Linked DNA regions of Homo sapiens. The protein of the gene in region 3 purifies or fractionates together with the protein of the main gene of each other region. This does not show direct contact. Each region holds a gene or a part of one and is shown on either strand. Other genes may lie near its edges.

Region 1 (7,960 bases), on a different chromosome or scaffold from region 3:
TATGTTTTAGTGCCTTCAGTAAGGATTCACTTAGCCATAATGAACCACTTTCCTTTAAGGAAATCCTTCATAACTCTACACAAGGGAGAATATAAACATGCATATGGTATACTACCATACCCAGACTTACTTTTTCAAGATGAAATTTTCATGATGAAATAACAGGTATTTTTCTGAAAAGTGAGCCTGTCTAAAGTTATATATCTTCTTTTGGCCTTTCTGACATGCTGTTTCAGAATTTGAAAGTGTTCTTATGTTCTTGAATTGTATACTCCACTTAATCTAAATCACCAAATCAGACCATGCCATTTCCTTGATTAAAATTAAGGTCTTTACATTACATGCTAAAGTTCAAAGTCCTCTCTGTGACACATAAGGGCATTCATGACCTACTTCTCTAGCCTTACATCCCTCTACTTTTTAATCCTGTAATTCCAAGACCAATTCCCTGCAACTCGTTGTTCAATGCCTTTCTTCCTTTTCTTATGTTGTTTGTCTCCCCAGGATTAATTCCCCACCCTACACAGCCCTATCCGTTCATCAAGACTCAGCTCTGGTACCATCTTCTCTGTGAGGACTTACCAAATGCCACATACTCCCCTCCCTCCCAGAAAAGCAGTAAGTGTTCCCCTGCTCCTTCTCTGTATCCTCATAGCATCTTATGTTTACCACTCTATCATAACTGACACTACTGAAATCATCTCTTAAGGTTAAAAATAATTATTAGAGTTAATATTTACTGAACCCTTACTATATCTCTGGCACTGTTCGAAGCATCTTCCATTTATTAAGTTTCTTTGTTCCTTTATAACAGTTCTATAAGGCAGATTCTATTGTTATTCTTATTTAATACATGAAGACATGGAGCCACTAAGGGTTAACCTGTCCATGGTAACAAAACTGGTTAAGTGGCAGGGAGAGAATTCTAACCCAGGCAATCTACCTCCAGGGCCTGCACTGTTATCACATCAAAAGTCCTCAGGTAAAGTCTGTTTTCCCTAATGAATATATACGTTTTACAAGAAAAAGACTGCCTCATTTATCTCTGTAGTCCCAGTCCCTAGCACATGGAATAAGTTCAGTAAGTATTTATTGAACTGGTTTGACTCACTTAACAAATATTTACTTCAGATTTTACAAATAAGTTATTCAAGTATTTAAATACGAATTTATTCTAAAATGGAGATGGAGGATTTAAATTTACCTTTACATAATATACAAAAATACAAAGTTACAAAGTGTTAAAGACATTTTTCACCAAATCTCATAAAACTAATTCATTGTAATTGTGGACCTGACTACACATAAACTTGTAATTAAGTATTTTGAAACATACCTTGTTTCTGGGTTGTACCTTGCAGAAAAGCAAATATAGTAAATAGAAGTTGCCAACACTGAAGAGAAGATTAACAAATCTGAGCATCCCAATGGAGCAGACAACATGTTCAGACCATCCAAAGATCCAAATGGCAGGTTTGATCACTCCAATTGACACCAGGTACAAGCCAGGTAATGTAGTAATCATGGGATCCCACTTTAAAATGAAAGAAAATGAAGTAAAAGCAAGAGGTAATAGGAACAAGACAGGCACAAATATGTCAAGCCCAAGTCTCATCTCCAGCAACAATCAGAAATTTTGAGAAGTTATTCTATGACAAGATTAAGTAAGTCCTTGGCAGAACAGGATTCGTTTTTCTTATTTTTTGCCCCCGGACCAGCTTAGTGATGGTTCAGGTAGCAGCAACCAATAAACAACAACAACTTAAAATCTATTTCTATTTTCCAAGAAATGTTCTTTAAAAGCCTTTATTTTGATAAATAAACTGCAAATGTTCCAGTTTTTAAAAGCATGGAAACATTGTTTGGGACTCTTAAGTTTAGGAAAACATTTGGACCACAGGCTCCATGATGACAGCTAACATAAACTGAGACAGAAATTGTTGCCAAACCCTCTGTATTAACGTTACAATATGCCCTATAGTAAAGATTATTGTCATTTTGCAGATGAGTAACCTGAATTTCTGAAACTCAGAACATCTCCAAGATCACAAAACTAGTAAATCACAGCACCAAGATTTAAGATCAGATCTTTCTCTAAAACAGACTTTATATTTCTAGCCAGTACCCTATATTGTGTCACCAGAGAAGCAGGGGATGCTTATTTTGATATTTATATGTACATACTTGCACAGTCAAATATATACTCAAAAATGATGTGACTTGACTGGTTGCCAGTTTATCCAGTTAACAGTTCACTAAAAATACCCAGGGAAGGAATTTGTGATTATAAATTGTCACTTTTTGGTAGCTGAAGATCCCTCCAGTCCACCCTATCCCACCCCTAAAATGCACAGTGAGGTGCTTGACAGGTGAGCTAAAGGAAAGTTTTCTGGTATTTCCAAGGAGCACCCGAATGCCTTTAATCCTAAAACAAGGAAAGACAAAGTGGGATCGATATCGTCAGCTGCCAAGAGGAGGGCTCAGTTCCCCGTTGAGTATTCTCCCAGATCACTCCTTCCTGGAGGACAGATCTGCTGTTTATTCATTCATTTAATAAATATTTCACAGATCTCAGAGACAGGAACAAAAGACTATACCCAGTTTCTTTCATGTTCTGAGGCTTGAGGGGGTGGAACAGGACGAGTGAAGTCTAAGGATGGGAGGACGTGGGGACGCTGGGACCTCTCAGGCCTCTCCTGGGGTGGGGACAGGTTGGGGACCCCACCTGGGAAAGGGAGAAATGGCCCTCACAGTAGCGCTGCGCCTGAGGCAGGTGGAAGATCTCGTCCATGTAGGGCTCTCGCAACGCCCGGCTGAAGGCGGAGAAGAGGAGGCAGGATACTAAAAAGGTACAGCTCAAGGCGGCCGAGAAATAGTAACCTTCCAGCTGCGCCATTCCAGCTCCCACAGCCACTGCCCAAGAACCTACTCCTGGAAAATTCTGAGCCTGGAAACCCGAGCTGGAAACTTGGGCTCGAAATGGGCGCGCTAGGCGGGACTAGCCAGACGGGGCCACATACCGGAAGGCAAAGGATGCTGGGAGAGCGCGGATCCGGAAAGATCGGGTCGCTGTTTCCCGGAGTGACGGGTTTAGATAACGGACCGGATGATTACCCTCTCAATCGCATTGCCCGGGGCGCACAAAGTGTCAAAACTTCCGGAAGGGGCGGGTCTCGGATTTCGCCAGCGCGGGAGGTGCGTGGCTTGCTGCTTAGAAAAAAAAAAAAAAAAAAAAAAAAAAAAAAGCCGCTTCTTAGCTTGGATCTTTTTTCCTGCTCACTTCCATCACTTACCAGAAGGTGGCGACGTTTCCCCACGTTTCCAATTCCAAGCCCTAAAATGGACACATTTTTTCCCCCGTTATTTCTGTTATTTCTCTCCAGTGATCCGAATTAATTAAACCCTCAATTCCAAGACATTTCATTCCATCAACTTTGGAGTGTAGGAAGGGTGCGTTGGTTGTGATAGCAAAGACTGAGAGTTTTAGATGAAAACTTGAAGAACCAGAGACCCGTCAATGCCGAATGAACTTCAGTGAGAGGAGTGTTTGTTCGTTTGTTTGTTTAGGTTAAAAGAGAACTCTTTCAAAATGTGGATGCTCTCAGAGGATTTAGTTAAATTGACATTCCTAGTGCACTTTCATAGTCATATTACCCTGTAGGATTTGGAAAATACATATATATTTTAGAATTCGGGATGTTTTAGGTGTGCCTGTAAATTTGGTTGTTAATATCTGTAAGGCAGCCTTCTGTTTTTCCTACTAAATCATAAGCGTGAACATCTTAGTGGGTGGCATTATACATCCTTTATGTTTGTAGTCCCCAAAATGGCTTTCACACAGTAGGCACTTAAATTTGTGGACTTTTATAGGCTGTGTAGACATCATCAAATTCCTGTATTCTGGGATTAGGTGCTGGGGGCAGGAGATGAGGTAAATAATTTGAAGAATGCCGAAGATAAATTATGTGTTGTAATTTTGTCTTGAGCATGGTTGGCCATGTTTTGTAGAAAAACTATTTCTCAGGTAACCTCAATCAGGTTGCCTTTGGCAGGAATATATCAGAATTTAGGCGGGATTTAAGGTTGCAAACCTCAGAGTTCTCAATTGAGCTCTTTTTCTGGGTTAAAACTAATTCAGTATTTCTAAACTTAAGAAAGTTTCTTAAATTAAGCTGACTGCCTTTCCATTCTGTCTCTGCCTGTTTCCTCAATGATAAGAGGAAGTAGTGGTGAATGAGGGCTGGGATGGGAACATTTACATTACTGGAATAAAGTCATGTGAGGATCCTACTCTGATGTGATGCTTAGCTTTGTTTTAACCATTATCTCCCATTTTATTGTTGAGTCCATGCTGTACTTATCTGTTTAAGTCACTTGTAACACATCTCCAGATGATTCAGTCTTCAAGAGGTTGATGTGATCTACAAGTAATTAGCTCCTGACCTGTTGACCTGCTAAATCGTGTTATATATACTCTGCAGCTTACTGACCCACCCTAGAAATAGTGGGTCGTTTTTAAAGGGAGTAGAACAAGACTAGACATTTATGCTCTCCATTTTTCTTCATAACAATTGCCACCAATAGTTTATGTTAAACATTTGACTCCTATACATGCTGCACACATCCCTTTACATAAAATGGAAAGTTTCAAGGAAATATGGGGTTCTAGAATGGGTAGGGATCTTTATTAATAATCTACTTGACTTCATGTTATAAAAGAAGTTGGTTTTAAAAAAATGAATGATTTACCTAAAATTACATAAAAAATTAGTGTCAGAACCAAGTGTAGGAATTAGAAAATCAGACCAAGAGTAATAAAATAACTTCATAGCCTTATAGGTTAAAATAATCTACAATGTATACTGAACTGAATGTTTCACTAGTCCCAATAACTTTACATTTACATTCCACTCTCCTCTGTTTCCATACACCAAGTTGAAATACAAGTTTCATCTTTTAAAAAAATGTTCATGTTACAGACTAATTACATCAAAATCTGCTGGGGGAACATTGTGAAAAACTAGATTGTAGAGAGCCATCTCAAATCACTGAATAATAATCTTCATATTTGGAAACGATTGATGTAAAACATATTACCTGAGAATGCTAAGAAGCTCCATGGGCCCAGTAGAGTTCTTTGTAGAGTACTTCACTCGTTTGTTAGTTATTTTTACTATCTGCAAATCGATGAAGCTGTTGTCACTTTTCTACTCTTAGATTACAACATCTTTGATAATCTTGAAATGCTTTCCAAAGCTCTGCTCCTAAATCAAGACCTATTAAAATAGCTACCTCTGGGGTTTTAATGAAATAGATTACATATTATTAGACCTATCATTTAAAACTAGATCAGCATTAATTTCAACTTACATTTTCCATTCAGAATTCCAACTGCCATTTTCCATAGATGTTTGTGAAAAAGAGTCATTAGGATGAGCAATCCCATTGTCATTGCACATCAACTATTTATTTGTGCTACTTGAATTATGATAAGTAAGTTATGGCAGAAAAATGGGCAATTTCTGTTGGGGTTCTAAGGATAGGTTGTTTTAGCAAGAAATAAATCTTTTTTGTTTATAAGCCATTAAGATTTTGACTTTATTTCTCCTGTATAACCTAGCTTACTTTGATCAATTAAGACATTCCTAATTTGATGAACTCGCATAACATTGCATATACTTAACTGTTTGAAACAGCCATATCTGAACAGTGAATTTCCCCAAAGGCTGTAACTGTAATAACTTTGAAGTATTAGTCCAAGAAACACCCTGCCTCTTATTGCACCCCTTTTCACTTGTTGCTGAATGAAAACATTGGCCACTTGCTAATCAGAGTGACGGTTTACTCCTTTCTAGGTGACAATTCGTTCTAGCTACAGCAGAGTACTGCACCCTGGGCCAAAAATCACAGATGATAAGCTCTAAAATGCAACTATACCCTTGAGGTCAATCTTAACATATCAATTTAAAATCTATATTTTAAAATTAATGAATCAATTAAAAAAAACACACACATTTTAGTACAAAAGCATTAGCAAGTATTTTAGCTCTACTGAAAATGTCTTGAAGACATTGTATAGGGGACTGGTTAAACCTAAGTAACACACACACGGAGAGACCCTTCTAAAAAACAATAATATTTATTTGGGATTGAGCATTACAGTTAGAATACAATGAACATAGGGAGGTAAAAGAAGACAAGGGATTTTAAAAGAAAAATGAAGAGGGTTACATAAATTGCTTTGAGACAATTATCCTTGGTTACAAGGACTGGTAGAAAGGGTGGCACCAGTTTGAGGTTGGACAGGCAGTTGCTGGGCAAATGTCCTCACAGAAGTAATTTTTTGTGAGATTGTGGTGGCCTTTGTGCAAAGTTGTGGTTTGTGCAGTCTTTTGTCGTAGTTCCTGTTGTCAGGCATACACGCATATAAACCCTCCCTTTCTGGTCTTCCTTAGCTCCATTTTTCAGGGTTTTTATGCAAGTGGCCCCATTTTGATTCTGATAACTTTCATAGAACAAATCTTTCTGGTTTGTGGCAGACTTTCCAGTTTTACCCTTGAAAGTCTCAGGCCAGGTAAATTCTGTAGTATCAGACAAAGAGAATGGTTGGTGATATGGTTTGGCTATGTCCCCACCCAAAATCTCACCTTGAATTATAATCCCCATAATCTCCATGATCCCCATGTGTCAACAGAGAGACCAGATGGAGGTAATTGAATCCTTGGGGCAGTTTCCCCGGTGCTGTTGTCATGATACTGAGTGCGTTCTCATCTGATGGTATTGTAAGTGTTTGATAGTTCCTCCTGCATTCATTCTCCTTCCTGCCATCTTGTAAAGAAGGTGCCTTGCTTCCCCTTCGCCTTCCGCCATGATTGTAAGTTTCCTAGGCCTCCCCAGCCATGCTGAACTGTGAGTCAGTTAAACCTCTTTCCTTTATAAATTACCCAGTCTTCAGCAGTTCTTTATAGCAGTGTGAAAAAGGACTAATACACTTGGTCATTTAGAAAGATATACCATACAACCCAAAGCAAAACTTCCTAAATATTTTTTTATAACAGTGGTTCCTAAAGTACCACAGCATTAGTATCACCTGGGAACCTGTTAGAAGTGCAAATAATCAAGTCTTGCCTTAGACCTACCGGAAAACAAATCTGATAGCAGAGGGAGCCAAGTAATACGTGTTTTAACATTCATTTTGTAATCAATTATGATTCCCTTAGATTACCAAGTGGACCTGATGGACCTGAAAGTTTGAGAATACTGCTGTCCTCTACATTTCCCTTGCTTTTCTGATCACTCATGCTGCTTTGTCCCCTGGCTTCTCTGATTCTTCATCTCCAGGCTTCACCCTACCAAGAAACAAAGTTCATTGCCAATGAACATATAGACGATGTTCCTCCTCAGCAGCTGAAGAAGAGGAACTTAAATACTTACAATTTAATGGCTTTTAGTTACATATATTTATATTCAGACAGATGTCTTTTCTTTCAAAAGACTATGTGAAGGGGAACTTTGCTTTTTGCTAAAATAAGCAGCTGAAACACCATAGTCCTACAGCTATTGCTGCCAGTTAGATAAGAAACATTCTAGGAAAAGAAAGAGAATCATAAATTGATTATTAAATGAACTGGGCTATTATACTGATGAAATTACAGTACTATTAAATCAACCAAAGTAAAAAGTTAGAAGAGAAGACATTGAATTAACTTTAATTCTTAAATAATTTCACAGTTTAAGAGACGCAGTAATATGATCTTACTAATTTTAAAATTTCAGACGTTAGAGTGAGATTTATGATACAATTGTTATTACTGAAAAGAGGGAGGTTTTGTGAAATATTGAGGAGGGTTTCTGGTTAATTCCCTTTTGGCTTTAGAAGCAGAGTAAAACAAGTGGGCATCCTTATGAGCATTAGGTACCCTGCACTGGCTATAAGTTCGGCATACATTCAGAATATTAC
Region 2 (7,000 bases), on a different chromosome or scaffold from region 3:
ATGTGATACGTCTTCCAGCCTCCATTCGCAACTTCTTCCACCTCATCTCCTCCTGCACCCCTCTAGATCACTTCTTTTGTTGCTCCCACCTCCGGACTTCTGTATATGCAGCTCATTCTAAAGTATGATTCCCCATGGTTCCTTCTTTTACCATTTTCTATTTTTTTTTTTTTTTAGGGGGATAGGGTTTTGCTTTGTAACCCAGGCTAGAGTGGCACAGCTCACTTGCAGCCTTGATTACCTGGGCCCAAGTGATCCTCCTGCCTCAGCCTCCTGAGTAGCTGGCACCACAGGCTTGCATCACAACGTCCGGCTAATTTTTAAATTTTTGTAGAGAGCGGGTCTCCATAGGAGACCCTGTCACAAACAAGCTGGTCTCAAACTTCTGGCCTCAAGTGATCTCCTGCCTTAGCCTCCCAAAATGTTGGGATTACAGGCTGAGTCACTGTTCCTGATTCCTTTACTACTATTGAGTCTGATTCAGTAGAGCCTTCTGGTATAGATTTCCTAAACGTCTCTATTTAAAATCATAACCATCCCTCCAGTCCTTGGCCCCCCCCCATCTTTCTACTTGCTTTATTTTTTCCCTATATTATATGGTAAATATACTATCTAATTTTCAATTTTACTGCCTATCTCTCAACTAGACTGTAAGCTTCATGAATTCAAGGAGTATGGTCTCTTCGGTATGCTGGTTCACTGCCAGTGTTATGAACATGCTTGGCACATATTAAACACCTCAATAAATAAATATTTATTGAGTGAATTAATCAGAGCTGAGAGTGGACATTCTTTTGTACCCATAACAAAAACTGAACAGCATACTGAACCGATCAATCTGAACTGAATCAGGCTGGCCGTCAGGGCCTCCAAAGTACTGCTTCTGTCTGGTCAGCCTGCTGCTACAGCCTTGGCCAGCTAGGCCCTGCTGCTCATGGTGCCAGCCCAGAGAGGAGCCAGCCAGGAGATGGTGAGTGCTGTGGGGGTGGGGAGCCCCAAGGAGAAGGCACTGAGGAGGAAAAACAGGATTAGCAGCTCAAACTGCCAGAGACAGAAAGCAAGCTCAAATGAGTGACCTGAAACAGCAAGTGGTAGATTTAGAACAGAACCAAAAACTTTTGCTAGAAAATCAGTTTTTACAAGAGAAAATGCATGGACTCGTAGTTGAGAACCATGAGTGAAGACAGCACTTGGGGATGGATGCTCTGGTTACTGAAGAGGAGGCGAAAGCCAAGATAATTCCATCTATTTGATGCTTGACATCCCTAACTAGGCAGATGAGGGTAGAAGTTAGTTGTGGTGGGGTTGGAAGTAAACATCAACTACCTTCCCAGTATGATATCCTGTTGGGCATTCTGGACAACTTAGACCCACTAGTGTTCTTCAAATGTCCTTCCCCAGGGTCTGCCAGCCTGGAGCAGCTCCCAGAGGTCTACTCAGAAGGACCCAATTCCTAACCAGCCTCCCTTTCTCTGTCAGTGGGGACATTATCAGCCAAGCTTGAAGCTATTAATGAACTAATTAATTTTGACTACATATATGCCAAGCCCGTAGTCTGAGACAGAGAGCCAAGCTAATGCGGTAGTGAAAATCAAGGAAGCACCTCTCAGCCTTTTAGAGAATGATCACCCAGAATTCGTGGTCTCAGTGAAGGAAGACTTTGTGGAAGATGACTTCATTCCAGACCTGGGTATCTCCAATCTACTTCCATCCAGCCACTGCCCGAAGCCATCTTCCTGTCTACTGGATGTTTACAGTGACTGTGGGTATGAGGGCTCCCCTTTCCCCTTCAGCGACATGGCCTCTCCACTTGGTGCAAACCATTCTAAGGAGGAGACTGGCCAATGAACTCTTTCACCAGCTGGTTAGTGTCTAAGGAGTGATCCAATACTGTTGCTCTTTTCCTTGACTATTACACTGCCTGGAGGATAGCAGAGAAGCCTGCCTGCGCTTCATTCAAAACGTCACAGAGTGTACAGTCCTAGAGAATTCCCCTATTTACCTGTTTAAACGTCATAGATAACCCCAAGTATTGTCTTTTGGCATCCAGCAGTCCAAGGTATTCGATATGTTACAATTCAGAACTATAGGTTTTGAGGTTGTACTTTTTCTAAAGAGTGGTAGTTTGCCCTAAATATTTATTATGTGAGGGTGATTAGACAAGTGTCTTAGAGTAGACATGGAATTCATGAATGGCTCTTTATCATTTCTCCTCCCGCTTTTTGGCATCCCAGGCTTGTCTCTAGTTTTAGGTCCTTTAGTTTTCTTCTGCAAGTGGAGAGAACACATACCTGAGGGGGCTCTTTTCCCCTCATGTACAGTTCAAGTAAAGATCAAGAATTTTTTGTAAAATTATAGAAATTTACTACGTAAATGCTTGATGGAATTTTTCCTGCTAGTATAGCTTTTGAAAGGTGCTTTCTCCATTTATTTAAAACTACCTATGTAATTAAGTATAATACAAAAAAATTAAATAAACAATTAGAAGAGATGGACTTGCATATCAATATAGATGATTCTCTAAAATCGCTGCCTACCAAGGAAAGTCATTTTTCCTAATGTTCTGACTGAAGGCTACATTAAATGTGGCATGGAGGAAGAGTCTTGGGAAAAGTCGAGAACTGTAAGTGTTCTCAATAGGCAAAGACTTTGTAAAGAAATCCCAGAGTAATGTTGGCATTTGGCTGAGGGGTGGTGATAAGACAAGAAGGCCAGGAAGCCTGTTATTTGAGCCCAGTGTGTCACATCTCCTCTCACATGTGGGGCCATCTTGTTCCTGAGTCTTACCTTCTTTAGTGATGGCATCTGCAGTCTCTTTGGCCTTGTCTTTAAGGTCCTTGACCACACTGTCCATCTGGGACTCGTGCTTCAGGAAGAAAGGACGGATGATGCGCTTGTAGAGCAGTTCAGCCCCATTAGAAGGGCTCGGGGCCATGCACCACAACAGGAAGCCACACTGCACAGAAAAAGAGCCAGCATGGGTAACAGGAGGGTGGAGGGGGCACATTCTGAGAATACACACTGTCTTTCACTACTCTGGGGATGGGAGATGCCTCTGTTATTTTCCCCAAAGGCATTACCAGTGTTTTCTGCAGGTTAAAGGTGGGCTTTCTTTAGATGGAAAAAACATGATGAGTAATGAGCTGGTAAGGAAAAGCTGAGACTAAAAAACAAAAGGTAAAACACACCAGGTCCAGGAGCTTAACTATCTTCCTAACTTGGACCACGTTTTAGTATATAGCTGTAAGAGGCTTTTATTAATCATAACTCTTAGAAATCAATTTAAGAAAATATAGTACTTATCTGCATGTATAAAGCCCTGTACAGATAAGCCTAATATCTAGGAGGCCTGTGCTTGGTAGGCTTATCTTGGTAAGTTTATCACATTTATTCATCCTATTATGGAAAAAATACCTTGTCCATTCCTGAATTCTTCCTTTGGTGGACCTCAGTTTTGGGTAGATCTTAGCCTTCAAGGAATCTTTACAGTTGTTCTTCATCTTTCATCTTGAATGTAGTTATTATTCCTAACTCCTTCTTTACAGCTCTACTTTGCCATTGAGATTTTTTTTTAATTGACAAGAATTCTGCCCTAATTACTTAAATAAGGATTTTCACACTATGTCCAAAAAATTTTTACTGTTGATTCAAATAATAAATACCAACTCGTCACTTCAAGTCATCCATGCAATTTACTCCTTTTTAAGATAAAAAGAAAAGCAGAAGGAAAAGGAATATTCAGAGTAATCTGCCCATTTCCCTAGAAAGTTTAATAAACAATATACTGAGTTATTTTAGTTTAAAAGATTCTAACCACATTGTATTCCACACAGCCTAGGTGACTCTACAAAAAAACAGAAGTCACTTACAGAGATTCCAAATCAGTATTTTTTACAACTTCTCCTTAGTGTAAAAACATCTTAATTTCTCATGCTTTAAATTTAAGTCTTAGTCCTTATGATTCCAAACCAAGGGATGTACTCATAATCAACAAGCTATGATGGTTTTCTAAGACAGTCTTTCAGGTGTTTTAGAGATACAAAGCTGATAAAGGGCTAACACTAATGACAAGAGTTTCAGTTTAAAATGCACAAATAGCTCACTCCATCAGCACCATGTTGGCTCTGAGAAATTTATACTAGACTTTGAACTTGTATAACACTCAAAATAAAAAACAAAACCCAAGTTCTCAACAATATCTCCAGATTATTCTTTCTGAGAGTCTTGCTCTGTCACCCAGGCTGGAGTGCAGTGGCATGAACATGGCTTACTGCAGCCTTGAACTCCTGGGTTCAAACAATCTTCCCACAGCCTCCCAAGTAGCTGGGAATGACTGCAGGCATGAACCACCAGGCCTGGCTAATTTTTTATAACTTTTTTTTGTAGAGACAAGTGTCACAATGTTGTCCAGACTCCCCTTATCTCAACTACAGTAAAAAGTAACTCTTGAAATGTAACCTTTGTGAATTAAAATTTGTTACACATGCACAAGAGTTTTTAAGACAGAGACTTGCTAGGCATGGTGGCATGCACCTGTAGTCCCAGTGACTTGGGAGGCCAAGGTGCAAGGATTGCTTGGGCCCAGGAGTTGGAGACTGACATGGTTTAGCTGTGTCCCCACCCAAATCTCATCTTGAACTGTAGCTCCCATAATTCTCATGTGTTGTGGAAAGGACAGGGTGAGAGATAACTGAATCATGGGGGTGGTTTCCTGCCATACTGTTCTCATGGTAGTGAATAAGTCTCACGAGATGTGATAGTTTTATAAGGAGTTTCCCCTTTCGCTTGGGCTCTCATTCTTTCTTGCCTGCCGCCACCATGTAAGACATCCCTTTGCTTTTCCTTCATCTTCCACCATGATTGTGAGGTCTCCACAACCATGTGGAACTGTGAGTCAATTAAACCTCTTTCCTTTATAAATTGCCCAGTCTCGGCTATGTCTTTATTAGCAGCATGAGAACAGACAAATGCAGAGACCATCCTGGGCAACAGAGCAAGAGCTCATCTCAAAAACAAAACAAAACCCAGACACTATAGGACTAAATTTTTTATAAAACCCCAAAACTATAGCTGTATGCTTAAGAAACATACCTACAACAAAACCAAATAGGAACACTGAAAATAAAGTTATGGGAAAGATATATCAGACAAACACCAACTCCCAAAATAGCTCATTAGCAATATTAATACATACAAATTACTTAAGGCAAAATAAGTAAATAGGATGATAAAGAAGGAAAGCAATTCACCAAGAATATTAAAATTCCTGAACTTGTATATACCTTTGAAATACGTAAATTATATCTAACTTTGCATATGTTTGCAATAGAATTATTTTTATAATTATATATTTATATATAGCTATAGATAGCTTTCAAATATGGCTTTGAAATATTTAAATGTAAGTCAGAATTATATAGACAAATGGACAAAATCTGCAATCATAGATTTTAACATTTCCATCAGAAATTGATATACTAGCCAGGCTTACACCTGTAATCCCAGCACTTTGGGAGGCTGAGGTTGGAGGATCACATGAGCCCAAGAGTTTTGAGACTAGCCTGTGTAACATAGGGAGACCACATCTCTAGGAAAAAAAAAATTTTTTTTTTTTTTTGAGACTGATTCTTGCTCTCTTACCCAGGCTGGAGTGCTGTGGCACAATATCAGCTCACTGCAACCTCCGCCTCCCGGATTCAAGCGATTCTCCTGTCTCAGCCTCCCAAGTAGCTGGGACTGCAGGCAAACACCACCATGCCCAGCTAATTTTTGTATTTTTAGTAGAGACGGGGTTTCACCATGTTGGCCAGGCTGGTCTTGAACTCCTGACCTCAAATGATCCACCCCCATCGGCCTCCCAAAGTGCTGGGATTACAGGCGTGAGCCACCGCACCCGGCCACAAAAAATAAATTTAAAATTAGCCAGGCTTGGTGATGTATGCCTGTGGTCCTCCTGGGAGGTTGAGGTGGGAGGGTGGCTTGACCTTGGGAGGTCGAGACTGCAGTGAGCTGTGATACCATCACTGCAATCCAGGCTTGGTGAGACAGCAAGACCCTGTCTCAAAAAGACAAAAAAAAGTTGATATATAAAACAACCTAGAAATTAGTAAGAATACAGAATAAAGAACACAAAATTTAAGTCTTTTTTTTTTTTTAAATAAAAAAGGGTTTCACTTTGTCACCCAGGCAGGAGTGCAGTGGCACAAATACAAAACACTATAGCCTCAACTTCCTGGGCTCAAGTGATTCTCCCGCCTCAGCCCCCCAGGTAGCTGAAGACCACAGGCATGCAGGCACGCACCATCACGTCTGGCTAATTTTTGTACTTTTTGTAGAGATGGGGTTTCGCCATGTTGGCCGGGCTGGTCTCGAACTCCTGACCTCAAGTGATCCACCCATCTCAGCCTCCTAAAGTGCTGGGATTACAGGTGTGAGCCACTGCACCTGGCCTAAAATCTCACTCTAAAGATATATACAGATCTCTCAACCCAACAAAGAGGGATTCAAAGAGTTAATATAGTATATAGAGAGTAACAGGATGGACTCAAAGAAACTAACTTCCAATCCTGGTTCTGCCATTTACTAGCTAAGCAAACCTTATACAAGTTACTTAATCACTTAAGTCTGGTTTTTCCTCTATAAAATAGGTATTAATTGAAAATTTTAAAATTTACCCCTATAATTTTGTAAGAAAATAAAATTACTAAGCATAGCAAGGACTTTCTCTGACCCAAGAATACTGTGTTTTCTAACAACATCTATGAAACATTACTAACAGGAGAACATGTTAGCTTTCAGTAGGGGAAAGCAAATCCTAGAACCAAAAATATTTAAGCAAATATTTATTTTTATTTTTTATTTTTGAGACAGAGTCTCACTCTGTCACCCAGGCTGGAGTGTAGTGGCACAGTCTTGGCTCACTGCAACCTCTGCCTCCTGGGTTCAAGCAGTTCTCCTGCCTCAGCCTCCCAAGTAGCTGGGATTACAGGCACGTGCTACC
Region 3 (7,644 bases):
CCAAGATCTTTTTGGTTGTTTTTTGTTTTGTTTTTTGGGGTGGTTTTTATTTTGTTTTTGTTTAGTTTTGTTGTTGTTTGTTTGTTTGTTTTTGAGACGGAGTCACTGTTGCCCAGGCTGGAGTGCAGTGGTGCGATCTCAGCTCACTGCAACCTCCGCCTTCCGGTGTTCAAGAGGTCTTCCTGCCTCAGCTTCCCAAGTAGCTGGGATTGCAAGCGCGTGCCATCACGTCCAGCTAATTTTTGTATTTTTAGTAGAGATGAGGTTTCACCATGTTGGCCAGTCTGGTCTCAAACTCCTGGCCTCAAGTGATCCACTTGCCTCAGCTTCCCTAAATGTTGGGATTACAGGTGTGAGCCACGGCACCTGGCCAAGGATGGTTTCTTTTTAAAGGGAGGGGATATGATTTATGTAATGTTTATGTAATAGTGAGAATGATCTAGTAGAAATAAAATCTTGAGGGTTTGTTTTTGGCAGAAAATGGAAGGACAAATGCAGGGGGAAAGTTTGTGGGAAGATGAGAGGGCATCCTGGGCCAATGCAGGGAGGGAAATTATTGGAAAGAACAAGAAGTCTTTATTCACAGTGACAGAGGCAGGTAGACTGAGGGTCAGGGGAGGACCGGCTGAAAATTTCACATCTAGTTATTACCATTTTCTCATTATAATGTCAGTCAAGGGCATCTGCTGAGAGTGGGAAAAACAGAGTAAATGAGGTACTTTTTGGAGAAAGCAGGACTGAAATAATTAAGGTGTGGGATAGCGAGTGCGCTGGAGAAGTAGAGTAACCTAATGAGGAACTGCTGAGTTTTCATTTGAAATCTGTGGTCATAAATTCAATTGCAACCCTCGATAATTGTGAAAGTCACTTCCGCTCTCTGAGCCGTACTTTCCTACCTGTTACACAAGGACAGCACTTGTCCCAAAGCAAGGGTATTGTAATCAGAGATGATAAAATATATAGTGACTGGCACATATTAAGGACTCACCAAATAGCAGACCTCATAATCAGTACAGGTATCATCTGTGGTTCGCAGTTCTCCTCCTTACATTACAACTAGGGTGGACCCAAAACTTTGCAATTTTTGCCTTGTTAATTTGTCCTCACCTGTCATTGCACAATCATCCTTCCTTGTTGCATCAACATTTTTTTTTTTCTGAGACAGAGTCTCGCTCTTTCACCCAGGCTGGAGTGCTGTGGCACGATCTTGGCTCACTGCAACCTCTGCCTCCCAGACTCAAGTGATTCTCCTGCCTCAGCCTCCCAAGTAACTGGGATTACAGGCACCCACCACCATGCCCAGCTAATTTTTGTATTTTTAGTAGAGACAGGGTTTCACCATGTTGGCCAGGCTGGTTTCAAATTCCTGGCCTCAAGTGATCCACCTGTCTTGGCCTCCCAAAGTGCTAGGATTACAGGCGTGAGCCACTGCGCCCAGCCTGTATCAACATTTTAAAATGAATTTGAAATTATGGATAGATCATGTCTTCTAAGTGTCTTGTAGAATGTTTGGAGTGTGGATAGAGAAAATCTGAGTCTGTTGAGGAACTATGGGGTGGAAAAGGGTTAACAGCACAATTCTGTTGTAATCAATCTGGCTGAGCTCCAATTCTGTCTCTACTCTTTCTACCTGGTAACGTTGAACAATTAACGCAGCCCATCTAAGTCTTAACTTCCTCATCTGTACAATGGTTATACTAATTATCAGGCTGCTGCAAAAGTACTTGTGGTTTTTGATATTATTTTCAATGGCAAAAACAGCGTTACTTTTGCACCAACCTAATATCACTAAGATTAATCAATATTCACTGTGTCTCAGGAGTGCTCAGTGTTCACACATATTAACACAGCCCATCCACAGATCCTGTGAGAGGCGTTGATAGGGTTAAAGGAAAAGCTCTTGGTGTGTGGGTAATGTTCATAAGTAGAAACAACTATTGCTATGAGCATCGTTCTTGTCCTGACCTTGAACTTCATAATGGATTGAGCCCCACGACACAGCACACAGCCTGGTGAGGGCCAAGAGTTCCCATTTGTCATAGATATACTCAGTCTAGCCTAAAAGATTTCCACATCTATTCTCACTTAATCCTCACCTGAAAGTTAGACTTCACCATAAAATTGTCCTCGTTCTGCAGAGCAGAAAACTGAGGCTCAAAGAGATATCACTGACTAAAAACTCATAGTGAGGAGACATCACAGATGAGATTAGAAGAGAGATGTAGCTGACTTCAGAGCCCAGTATATATATATATTTTAGACAGAGTCTCGCTCTGTCCCCCAGGCTGGAGTGCAGTGGCACGGCTCACTGCAACCTCCGCCTCCCGGGTTCAAGCGATTCTCCTGCCTCAGCCTCCCGAGTAGCTGGGACTGCAAGTGCATGCCACCAGGCCCGGCTAATTTTTTGTATTTTCGGTAGAGACGGGGCTTCACCGTATTGCCCAGGGTGGTCTGGAACTCCTGACCTCAGGCAATCCACCCCCCTTGGCCTCCCAAAGTGTTGGGATTACAGGCGTGAGCCACCGTATCTGGCTGAGCCCAGTATTCTTTGTAACAGTGACTCTCAATTGGGGGTGACTTTGCCTCCGAGGGGACCTTTGACAATGTTTATGGAACCTGTTGATTGTCATTTCTGGAGAAGGAGTTGCTACTGGTGTCTGTGGATAGAGGCCAGGGGGGCTGCTCAACATCCTACTGTGTCCAGAACAGTCTGCCACAACGAAGAATTACCCAGACCCAGATGTCAAAGGTGCCAAGGTTGAGAAACCCTGAGCTACATTAAATAACGTCCCATGGAATACCTCAGTGAAACTCACTGGTAATAGCAGGAAGAAAAGGAGGAAATAAGGAAAAGGAAGAAGGCTAAAAATCACCAGACTGAGGCATAGCCCTATCCTAGTAATCTTGGGGGAATCCCTTTCAAAGGCAGGACTTCCGTATGCAAAGGCAGTGGCTCTGGAGTTGTTCATCTCGGTTTCCGTATCTTGCTGCCTCCACTGACTGGCTGGGCATGATGTTGAAAAAAACTACAGAAGTCCCCGGGCCATGAATTCCCCCAGATGTGATGGCTGTTTCCCAATGTTATTATGAGCATTAGATGTGAACAAGTGCTATGGAATTGCTATTTCTCTTAAAGATGCTGAATAGCCCAGTCTGAGATGATTCTCAAATTCTCATGGCCATAGCAAATCATCCTGGCTTTTACACATACAGATTCTAGAATGAGATTTATGGATATAATTGTTTTTCATTTTTATTATAAGTTCAGGGGTATATGTGCAGGTTTGTTATACAGGTAAACTTGTATCCTGGTGTTTTCTTGTACAGATTATTTCATCACTGAGATATTAAGCCTAATACCCACTACTTATTTTTCCTGATCCTGTCCCTCCCCTCACCCTCCACCTTCCGGTAGGCCCCAGTGTTCCCCTCTTTGTGTCCATGTGTTCTCATCATTTACCTCCCATTTGTAAATGAGAACATGTGGTATTTGGTTTTCTGTTCCTGCATTAGTTTGCTAAGGATAATGAATACAATTTTAACAGGCAGCCTGGATGTTTCTGATAAAGTCCACAGACCACGGCATAAGAAAATGTGCTCAGGTGACGTGGGACTTTGTGTTGAACTGGATACAAATATTACAGATGTGATCCGGACCAGAGGCAGGGACTACATGTTTTGGGTTTTTGTTCTTAAAAGAAAAAAACAAAAACAAAAAAACTTGATCTGAGAAGCTCTGAAGGGTCATATTCTTACAATGTTATTGTCCACAATTTAGTCACGTGTCCACTACCAAAGCAATCCCTTGCAAAGTAAAAGGGATTCTGGTTAGTGCTAATTAGACTAGTCAGGATTTACTCCCAACATGGAGAAAAGACACCTTCTCTGCAGGGTGAGTAACTAAACACAATTGTGGTTTTTCAAGCAGAGAAGAATGGGGAACCGTTGCTGGGTGGGCAACCAGCAATATCTGTCAAGCGTAAGGGTTTAGAAGTCAGACCATGCCAAACTGAAGTCCTGAATCTATTATCTACTACCTAAGTGACCTTCAACACATTTCACAATTGCCCTGAGCTTTCATTTATTCTAATGAAAACTAGAAGTAATGAATATTACATAGCTATTACATAGGCCAAACCGGATCCCATATGTAGTAATTAACACAATGCATAGTCTCTAATAAGAACTTCACAAGTATTAATACAACTTATTATTCTTATAGTCTTTATCCCACAGACACCAAAGCTATACAAATCGGCACTGATTATTTGCATTCCAAACAGAGAAGAGCTCCACATCAAGCAGGGACAGGGAAAAGCAGAGGGTAGAAAGCAGAGATGGAACTCTCTTTGCTGACTTCCTCTAGTGCAGAATCCTCAGGATATAACATACTACTACATGTTACCAGTGACTCCTCAAAATTCTCTTCAACAATAACCTCAAGCCAAACCCTCAAACTTTATCTTGAGTACTAGCCAAGCAATAGGTCAAGGGTTCTCACAGTTTGAGGGACAGGAGTTGGGAGACTGGAAGAACCTGGGGCTGAAAGAGATTGCAGAGCTTGCCAGCATGTTTGCATTGAATGGTGGGAGACACAGATGTGAGCCTTCTGATTCTGAGTCATGTGCCTTCCTCACAATGCTGAGGCTGCCTATGCTCAATTTTCCATTGTCCATACAACATAAGTTCAGTATGAGCCTTGTAATCCTCTTGGTGAAGTGATCAGCCCGATAAGCGAAATGCATATTGATAATGATGGGAATATGGAGGACTATCCCTTCCCAAAGGAGCATCCAAGAGAATGCCAATTCTATAGCACCGTTGTCAACAAGGCTTGGTAGATAGAGTGGGTCTCCTGGTAGGAGTGGGAGCTTTAGTGGAAGTTGATGTGAGCTATAAATACAGATGCTGTAAGATGGTTCCACAGCTGAGAAATGGCCATTGTTGGAATGTTTCAGGTGCTGCTGGCAAGATGGAAACCAACTTCTCCACTCCTCTGAATGAATATGAAGAAGTGTCCTATGAGTCTGCTGGCTACACTGTTCTGCGGATCCTCCCATTGGTGGTGCTTGGGGTCACCTTTGTCCTCGGGGTCCTGGGCAATGGGCTTGTGATCTGGGTGGCTGGATTCCGGATGACACGCACAGTCACCACCATCTGTTACCTGAACCTGGCCCTGGCTGACTTTTCTTTCACGGCCACATTACCATTCCTCATTGTCTCCATGGCCATGGGAGAAAAATGGCCTTTTGGCTGGTTCCTGTGTAAGTTAATTCACATCGTGGTGGACATCAACCTCTTTGGAAGTGTCTTCTTGATTGGTTTCATTGCACTGGACCGCTGCATTTGTGTCCTGCATCCAGTCTGGGCCCAGAACCACCGCACTGTGAGTCTGGCCATGAAGGTGATCGTCGGACCTTGGATTCTTGCTCTAGTCCTTACCTTGCCAGTTTTCCTCTTTTTGACTACAGTAACTATTCCAAATGGGGACACATACTGTACTTTCAACTTTGCATCCTGGGGTGGCACCCCTGAGGAGAGGCTGAAGGTGGCCATTACCATGCTGACAGCCAGAGGGATTATCCGGTTTGTCATTGGCTTTAGCTTGCCGATGTCCATTGTTGCCATCTGCTATGGGCTCATTGCAGCCAAGATCCACAAAAAGGGCATGATTAAATCCAGCCGTCCCTTACGGGTCCTCACTGCTGTGGTGGCTTCTTTCTTCATCTGTTGGTTTCCCTTTCAACTGGTTGCCCTTCTGGGCACCGTCTGGCTCAAAGAGATGTTGTTCTATGGCAAGTACAAAATCATTGACATCCTGGTTAACCCAACGAGCTCCCTGGCCTTCTTCAACAGCTGCCTCAACCCCATGCTTTACGTCTTTGTGGGCCAAGACTTCCGAGAGAGACTGATCCACTCCCTGCCCACCAGTCTGGAGAGGGCCCTGTCTGAGGACTCAGCCCCAACTAATGACACGGCTGCCAATTCTGCTTCACCTCCTGCAGAGACTGAGTTACAGGCAATGTGAGGATGGGGTCAGGGATATTTTGAGTTCTGTTCATCCTACCCTAATGCCAGTTCCAGCTTCATCTACCCTTGAGTCATATTGAGGCATTCAAGGATGCACAGCTCAAGTATTTATTCAGGAAAAATGCTTTTGTGTCCCTGATTTGGGGCTAAGAAATAGACAGTCAGGCTACTAAAATATTAGTGTTATTTTTTGTTTTTTGACTTCTGCCTATACCCTGGGGTAAGTGGAGTTGGGAAATACAAGAAGAGAAAGACCAGTGGGGATTTGTAAGACTTAGATGAGATAGCGCATAATAAGGGGAAGACTTTAAAGTATAAAGTAAAATGTTTGCTGTAGGTTTTTTATAGCTATTAAAAAAAATCAGATTATGGAAGTTTTCTTCTATTTTTAGTTTGCTAAGAGTTTTCTGTTTCTTTTTCTTACATCATGAGTGGACTTTGCATTTTATCAAATGCATTTTCTACATGTATTAAGATGGTCATATTATTCTTCTTCTTTTATGTAAATCATTATAAATAATGTTCATTAAGTTCTGAATGTTAAACTACTCTTGAATTCCTGGAATAAACCACACTTAGTCCTGATGTACTTTAAATATTTATATCTCACAGGAGTTGGTTAGAATTTCTGTGTTTATGTTTATATACTGTTATTTCACTTTTTCTACTATCCTTGCTAAGTTTTCATAGAAAATAAGGAACAAAGAGAAACTTGTAATGGTCTCTGAAAAGGAATTGAGAAGTAATTCCTCTGATTCTGTTTTCTGGTGTTATATCTTTATTAAATATTCAGAAAAATTCACCAGTGAAGCCAACTTGGTCTTGTGTTTTCTTTCTGGGAAGATTTTTAATAACAAGTTTGTTTTCTTTAACAGTGATTAGACTCTTCTGTTTTTTGGTTTTTTGTTTTTTCCTATCTGTCAGTTTTGGTAAACTGAATTTCAAGGAGTTTGGCCATTTCATTCAAACTGTCAAACTCATCGGCATAAAATAGTATAATAACTGTTTAAAAGTTATAAAACAGCATGAAACTTGGCTGGGTGCGGTGGCTCATGCCTGTAATCCAAGCACTTTGGGAGGCCAAGAAGGGTGGATCACCTGAGGTCAGGAGTTTGAGACCAGCCTGGCCAACATGGTAAAACCCCATCTCTACTTAAAATACAAAAATTAGCTGGGCATGGTGGTGCACACCTGTAATCCCAGCTACTTAGGAGGCTGAGGCAGGAGAATTGCTTGAACCCGGGAGGTGGAGGTTGCAGTGAGCCAAGACTGTGCCATTGCACTCCAGCCTAGGGGACAAGAGTGAGACTTTGTCTGAAAAAAAAAAAGTATGAAACTTGAAATGCTTTCTTTTATGTATTTATTAATTTCTGATTTTTGTTCTTCTTGTTGTTATTATCCTAGAGCACAGCCTTTGGAGATACAGTTTCTTTTAAACAACGAAAATGTAAGCTCTCTGAAGTCAGGGATTTTGGTCTGTATGGTTTGCTGATTGAACCCCATCCTCTATGTGTAAAATACTGTCTGATATGTAATAGACATTCATTAAATACTCATTGAATAAATGAATCAATAAACAATAGTATCACCTAGGTGTCAAGTGAGAAGTTTTAA

Evidence for each region.
Region 1: the proteins of FPR2 (region 3) and ALG10 purify together in Homo sapiens (affinity purification with mass spectrometry; 2 studies listed by BioGRID and IntAct, with this or other methods). This does not show direct contact.
Region 2: the proteins of FPR2 (region 3) and REEP5 purify together in Homo sapiens (co-immunoprecipitation; 3 studies listed by BioGRID and IntAct, with this or other methods). This does not show direct contact.

The regions. Positions count from the first base shown.
Region 1 is NC_000012.12:34,017,536-34,025,495, reverse strand, and holds the start of ALG10 (dol-P-Glc:Glc(2)Man(9)GlcNAc(2)-PP-Dol alpha-1,2-glucosyltransferase), read right to left. Parts: upstream 3,001-7,960; 5' UTR 2,897-3,000; coding exon 2,726-2,896; intron 2,720-2,725; exon of another isoform or gene 2,598-2,719; intron 1,535-2,597; coding exon 1,337-1,534; intron 1-1,336. UniProt on the Homo sapiens protein: Dol-P-Glc:Glc(2)Man(9)GlcNAc(2)-PP-Dol alpha-1,2-glucosyltransferase that operates in the biosynthetic pathway of dolichol-linked oligosaccharides, the glycan precursors employed in protein asparagine (N)-glycosylation.
Region 2 is NC_000005.10:112,884,228-112,891,227, forward strand, and holds part of REEP5 (receptor expression-enhancing protein 5), read right to left. Parts: intron 2,957-7,000; coding exon 2,788-2,956; intron 1-2,787. UniProt on the Homo sapiens protein: Plays an essential role in heart function and development by regulating the organization and function of the sarcoplasmic reticulum in cardiomyocytes.
Region 3 is NC_000019.10:51,763,687-51,771,330, forward strand, and holds the end of FPR2 (N-formyl peptide receptor 2), read left to right. Parts: intron 1-4,958; 5' UTR 4,959-4,972; coding exon 4,973-6,028; 3' UTR 6,029-6,845; downstream 6,846-7,644. UniProt on the Homo sapiens protein: Low affinity receptor for N-formyl-methionyl peptides, which are powerful neutrophil chemotactic factors. Binding of FMLP to the receptor causes activation of neutrophils.